Homo sapiens: one gene and its partner. The gene in region 1 interacts genetically with each later gene. Each region holds a gene or a part of one and is shown in the gene's direction. Other genes may lie near its edges.

The links. A genetic interaction does not mean that the proteins touch.
Region 2: of MAP1LC3B (region 1) and HDAC1, a change in one rescues a mutant of the other (synthetic rescue), as found in Homo sapiens cells (one study listed by BioGRID).

The regions. Positions count from the first base shown.
Region 1 is NC_000016.10:87,398,836-87,402,335, forward strand, and holds part of MAP1LC3B (microtubule-associated protein 1 light chain 3 beta), read left to right. Parts: coding exon 1-35; intron 36-3,339; coding exon 3,340-3,446; intron 3,447-3,500.
Region 2 is NC_000001.11:32,323,083-32,326,582, forward strand, and holds part of HDAC1 (histone deacetylase 1), read left to right. Parts: intron 1-1,396; coding exon 1,397-1,471; intron 1,472-3,500. UniProt on the Homo sapiens protein: Histone deacetylase that catalyzes the deacetylation of lysine residues on the N-terminal part of the core histones (H2A, H2B, H3 and H4).

The DNA.
Region 1 (3,500 bases):
GACTTATTCGAGAGCAGCATCCAACCAAAATCCCGGTAGGTAGTCTCAGGCCTCGGTTTCAGTCATGAATGTACGCAGAGGAGAGCACCGCATAAGTGCATCCACTTGACGGGTTTTTACAGGAATCACCAGACAGCCAAACCCTGGGTGTCAGTTTCACAACCTAGAGAGAGGTATCCTTTTTTTAAGAGACAGGGTCTCACTCTCTTTCCCAGGCTGGAGTGCAGTGGTGCGATCGTAGCTCAGTGCAGTCTCAGCCACCTTGTGCTCAAGCAGTCCTCCCTCCTCAGCCTCCTGAGTAGCTCTGACTAGAGGCACACACCACTACACCTGGCTAATTTTTTAAGTTTTTTGTAGAGACAGGGTCTTGCTATGTTTAACAACCCAGGCTGATCTCAAACTCCTGGGCTCAAATGATCCTCCACCTTGACCTCTCAAAGTGTTGGGATTATAGGCATGAGCCACTGGCTGGCCTCAGGTGCCAAGATTTCTGTACTGCCTCTAATTTCTGCTACCACTTAAACTCAGGCAGGTGGAGCCTACACACTGATATTTCCTTGTGGATATCACACTTCAGAACGTGTCCGCTAGATAAAGCTCTCAAACTTACCAAGGAAAGTGATGACAGCTTGACTCGGCCTTACACAGAACCCTATGTAGGTCTCACACAATAGAACAATGTACAAATAAGCATTTTTCTTTCCCAAAGAAGCATGTAAAGATTTCCCATTCCTGCCACTCAACTTCTCTTTGTTGTGACAGGGTGGAAGAATTACTGTATATAGAAAAGATGTCCGCAGCGTTCAGTAAACACAGACACTAATGAGACTCAGAGGCTCATCTGTGGTCAGGTATTATAACAGCTTAAAACTAAAAAAAAACAAAATATTTTGCTCCATGGAAAGGAAGCATAGTGAGGAGCCAATGGATTATTTATTTATTTATTTATTTATTTTGAGACGGAGTCTTGCTGTGTCGCCCAGGCTGGAGTGTAGTGGCGCGATCTCGGCTCACTGCAACCTCCGCCTCCCAGGTTCAAGTGATTCTCCTGCCTCAGCCTCCTGAATAGCTGGGACTACAGGCACGTGCCACTACGCCCAGCTAATTTTTGTATTTTTAGTAGAGACAGGGTTTCACCATGTTGGCCAGGATGGTCTTGATCTCTTGACCTCATGATCCGCCCACCTCGGCCTCCCAAAGTGCTGGGATTACAGGCGTGAGTCACCACGCCGGCCTGATGGCTTTATTTAAATTCATAATATGAAACTATATGTGTTCCCTGTGTAGTTCAAATACGTGTGTGTGTGTGTGTGTGTGTGTGTGTGTGTGTGTGTGTGTATAAAATTTTTTTTTTTTTTTTGAGATGCAGTCTCGCTCTGTCACCCAGGCTGGAGTGCAGTGGCGTGATCTCGGCTCACTGCAAGCTCCACCTCCCGGGTTCACGCCATTCTCCTGCCTCAGCCTCCTGAGTAGCTGGGACTGCAGGCGCCCACCACCATGCGCGGCTAATTTTTTTTGTATTTTTAGTAGAGACGGGGTTTCACCATGTTAGCCAGGATGGTCTCAGTCTCCTGACCTCATGATCTGCCTGCCTTGGCCTCCCAAAATGCTGGGATTACAGGCGTGAGCCACCGCACCTGGCCTCAAATATTTGTATTTTTAACCTCATTTAAAGAAATATGTTATCAGAATGAAAGTACCAGGTCATTATGCACAAAACTTTGTCTCTAGAACCAGCTAATAATGGACTCTACTTGCCTTGTCAAATATAATTTTTTCATGTCAACTAGACAGTCTCTAGTGTGGAAAAACATTGAGCATATTACTATAATTAGGAACTTACACATTTATTAAAACACAGGCATTTACTTTTTTTTTTTTTTTAATGGATGAAAGGTTTTTATGTTTCCCAGGTGGGCCTGGAACGCATAGCCTCACCTCCTTATGCACCAGAACAACCAGCCTGAGTCACCGTGGCTCCCAAAACACATGCATTTACTTTCATTAGAACTTCAGCTGGCCGGACGCGGTGGCTCACGCCTGTATCCCAGCACTTTGGAAGGCCGAGGCGGGTGGATCACGAAGTCAGGGGTTCGAGACCAGCCTGACCAACATGGTGAAACCCCATCTCTACTAAAAATACAAAAATTAGCTGGGCGTGGTGGCGGGTGCCTGTAATCCCAGCTACTCAGGAGGCTGAGGCAGGAGAATTGCTTGAACCCGGGAGTCGGAGGTTGCAGTGAGCCAAGATCGTGCCACTGCATTCCAGCCTGGGCGACAGAGCAAGACTCTGTCTCAAAAAAAAAAAAAAAAAAAAAAAACTTCAGCCATGTCTCAGGATATGGTAGTTTTGGAATTGAGAGTTTCAGATGTTTTGTGCTTGAAGCTGGTTCCCAGCCTCTCTGCCTCGGTAAGGCTTGAGGTCTTTTTCTGACTAGGTATGTATTTTTCATGGTTCCAAAACTGAAACAGAATGAAAGGATACATAGCCAAGTATCTTCCCCCACTTCCTACCTGACGGCAGACATATTGTCTCTCTTGTACTATATTTTGTAAGGGGTAGATGTCTAAGCTAGCAAATGATCACTCTTCACAGGAGAGCTATGAGGAAACTAGTGAATGTGCTGTTTCAAAGCCCATTTTGGCATGTGCCAGTTAGACTGTAGGAGGCATTTTGTATATTTTTAATTGTTGATGACTATTTTATTTATTTATTGGAGACAGTCTAGCTCTATGCCCTAGGCTGGAGTGCAGTGGCGCAACCTCAGCTCACTGCAACCTCCGCCTCCTAGGTTCAAGCTTGTCTCAGCCTCCCGAGTAGCTGGAAGGCATTACAGGCACCTGCCACCACACCTGGATAATTTTTGTATTTTTAGTAGAGTCGGGGTTTTGCCATGTTGACCAGGCTGGTCTCGAACTCCTGACCTCAGGTGATCTGCTGGCCTCACCCTCCCAAAGTGCTGGGATTACAGGCATGTGCCACCATGCCCAGCCTGATGACTTTTTTTTTTTTTTGAGATGGAGTCTCGCTCTGTCACCCAGGCTGGAGTGCGGTGGCGCGATCTCGGCTCACTGCAAGCTCCACCTCCCGGGTTCACGCCATTCTCCTGCCTCAGCCTCCTGAGTAGCTGGGACTACAGGCGCCCGCCACCATGCCCGGCTAATTTTTTTTTGTATTTTTAGTAGAGATGGGGTTTCACCATGTTAGCCAGGGTGGTCTCAGTCTCCTGACCTCGTGATGTGCCCGCCTCGGCCTCCCAAAATGCTGGGGTTACAGGTGTGAGCCACCGCGCCTGGCCCTGATGACTATTTTAAAATCACTTCTGGCTTCTTTTCCAGGTGATAATAGAACGATACAAGGGTGAGAAGCAGCTTCCTGTTCTGGATAAAACAAAGTTCCTTGTACCTGACCATGTCAACATGAGTGAGCTCATCAAGATAATTAGGTATTCAGTCACCTTTGTTTCATAATATATTTCCTTTGAGTAACTTCTTATTCT
Region 2 (3,500 bases), on another chromosome or scaffold:
ACAGGGTCAGGAGTTTGAGACCAGCCTGGCCAACATGGTGAAACCCCGTCTCTACTAAGAATGCGGAAATCAGCCAGGTGTGGTGGCAGGTACCTGTAATCCCAGCTACTCGGGAGGCTGAGGCAGGAGAATGGCTTGAAACTGGAGGGCAGAGATTACAGTGAGCCAAGATCACTTCACTATACTCCAGCCTGGGCAACAAGAGCAAAACTCCGTCTCAAAAAAAAAACAGACAAACCAAAGCTTGAGGCTTGCATACTGCTTCTGCCATTTACTAACAGCTCACCTCTCTGAACCTGTTTCCCTACTTATTTATTTATTTATTTTTTTGAGACAGGGTCTCACTCTTGTCTCGCCCAGGCTGGAGTGCAGTTGCGCGATCTCAGCTCACTGCAACCTCTGCCTCCCGGGTTCAAGTGGTTCTTGTGCCTCAGCCTCCCAAGTAGCCGGGATTACAGGCAGCTGCCACCACACCTGGCTAATTTTTATGTTTTTGGTAGAGATGGGGTTTCTCCATGTTGCCCAGGCTGGTCTTGAACTCCTGGCCTCAAGTGGTCCTCCTGCCTTAGCCTCCCGAAGTGCTGGGATTACAGGTGTGAGCCACTGTGCCAGGCCTTGTTTCCCTACTTATAAGATGGGACCAAATCTTACCTCAGAAGCTTGTGTGAAGATGAATGATCTCGGGTATTTAACGCATGTAGCGCAGTGTCTGGCGTGTTGTACGTGCGCAGTGAACGATAGTTCTCTGGGTCTCTGTTCTTGCCCCTTGTTTGTCAGCTGGCGTGAGGGCCAGAGGATAAGTTTTTCTCCCTCAAGAAACGAACCAACATTTTCCAAGTTGCTAACTGCTTCTCCATATTAGATTTTTGTTAATTTTCTGACCAGTGGGTGAGGTGGGATATCAGTTTTGCTTGTTATAGATAATGGGCTAAGACCAGGTGTGATGGCACATGCCTATTGGGAGGCCAAGGCAAGAAGACTGCATGAGGCCTAGGGAACATAGTGAGGCTCTGTCTCTAAAAAAAAAAAAAAGAAAAAAAAATTAGCTGGGTATAGTGGCATGCACCTGTAGTCCAAAGTACTTGGGAGACTGAGGTGGAAGGATTGCTTGAGCCCAGGAGGTGAGGGTCAAAGCTGCTGCACATGAGCCATGTTTGTGCCACTGCACTCCAGCATGGGCAACAGAGCAAGCCCCTGGCTCTAAAAAATAAAAAAATAATAATGGGCTAAAGCTCAAAGATGTTAAACAACTTGATGCAGTCATACAGCCAGGAAGTAGAGCCTGGACTAGAACCCACACCTCCTGAATTTAAATTCTGTGTTTTTTTCCATCAGCTCATAAATATGTAAACTAAAGGAAATTGTGGAAACTAACCTTTTGCTTATTTCTTTCAAGTCAACGTTGGTGAGGACTGTCCAGTATTCGATGGCCTGTTTGAGTTCTGTCAGTTGTCTACTGGTGGTTCTGTGGGTAAGGAATATTCATCTTCTCCCCAGGGGTAGACTGGGTTGTTCTAGTGAGGTCTGCCTTTTAGGCTGCTATCCTAGTTGGCTGATCTGAAACCATGTAGAATGGTCCTGTGGTTTTTACTGAAGTCTCTAAAATGGCTGGTGTAGTGTCTCACACCTGTAATCCCAGCACTTTGAGAGGCTGAGGAGGAGGATTGCTTGAGGTCAGGAGTTCAAGACCAGCCCAGGCAACATAGACCCTCCTGTCTATAAAAAAATAAAATAAGTAAAAACAATTAGCCGGGCATGGTGACTCGTGCCTGTAGTCCCAGCTACTCAGGAGGCTGAGGCTTAAACCCAGTAGGTTGAGGCTGCAGTGAGTCGTGGTCACACCACTACACTCTAGCCTGGGCAACAAAGCAAGACCCTGCCTCCAAAAAAAAAATTTAAAAAGCCTCTAAAATGTCCCTCTGGTTCAGTCCCAGCCCAGGTTCAATCTCTGACATGGTACTGACAGGTGTCCTTGACTGTCCTTTCCTACTAAGAGATCTTATGTACAGGCGTTCCCCGCAGACCTCCTGGGGTTGTTAAGATGCTGTACGTAAAAGCAATTTGTGAACTGCAAAGTGCTATAAAAATGGAAGTGTCATCATCTGTGAATCTGTCCTATGAAAAAGTATGGTAATTACCTTTAGAGGTCAGAAATACTCCTCATGTATCTCCCACTTCCATTTGCAACTTTTGGGTTATCTCCAGGATTACTCTAAACGCTTTCTTAACAAATATTTATTTTCCTGTGATCCCCCACCAATATAATCATTGTGTCCATCCCCGCTGCCCCACCAATATAATCACAGAAAACAAAGAAGTGCACAGAAAAAAACACAATCACCCACAGTCACAGGGTTGGTGGATAACCTCTGTTACCATGTTGGTGTTTGTATGGCCATTCTTTTGTGTGTGTGTTTATATCTGTGTCACACATATACAACATCTATATTTTACAAAAGTGGGTTATATACATATCACATATATATGGTTTTATGCCTGCATTTCCTACTTAACGAAATTGTCTGTAGTTTTCTACAGCTTGCTTTCTTGTGGCTCTATGATTATTCCATGTTGTGGATTTACTTGAGTTGATATAATCTGTCCCTCTTCTTGATAATTTGGATCAATCTATGCTTTTATTGCTGTTAAAATCAACACTGCAGCTGGACACGGTGGCACATGCCTGTAATCTCAGCACTTTGGGAGGCTGAAGAGGGTGGATCACCTGAGGTCAGGAGTTTGAGACCAGCCTGACCAACATGGTGAAACCCCATCTATACTAAAAAATACAAAAATTAGCCGGGCGTGGTGGTGTGTGCCTGTAATCCCAGCTACTTGGGAGGCTGAGGCAGGAGAATTGCTTGAACCTGGGAGGCGGAGGTTGCAGTGAGCCGAGATCGCGCCACTGCACTTCAGCCTGGGTGACAGAGTGAGACTCCATCTCAAAAAACAACAACAAATTAACACTGCCACAAATGCACTTGCACACATGGGTGTGTATTTATCTTTTACTTCTTCTGGGACCTATTCGTGCTAGTGCTTTTTGACCTAGTGTATCAGCACTATCTTTGGTAATTTTTCTTTTTCTTTTTTTTTGAAATAGAGTCTCCCTCCATCACCCAGGCTGGAGTGCAGTGGCGTGATCTTGGCTCACTGCAACCTCCGCCTCCTGGGTTCAAGCGATTCTCCTGCCTCAGCCTCCCCAGGTAGCTGGGACTACAAGTGTATGTCACCACGCCCAGCTAAATTTTTTCGTATTTTTAATAGAGATGAGGTTTAACCATGTTGGCCAGGCTGGTATCGAACTCTTGACCTCAGGTGATGTGCCCGCCTTGGCCTCCCAAACTTCTGGGATTACAGGTGTGAGCCACCGCGCATGGCCTATCTTTGGTATTTTTTCAAAGTTCCTTGACCATGAGCCATAGTAAGAAATAAATTTACACATGCAATCCAGGATACATATAACATATGCATGCATGCACACACTCACTCACTCTGAA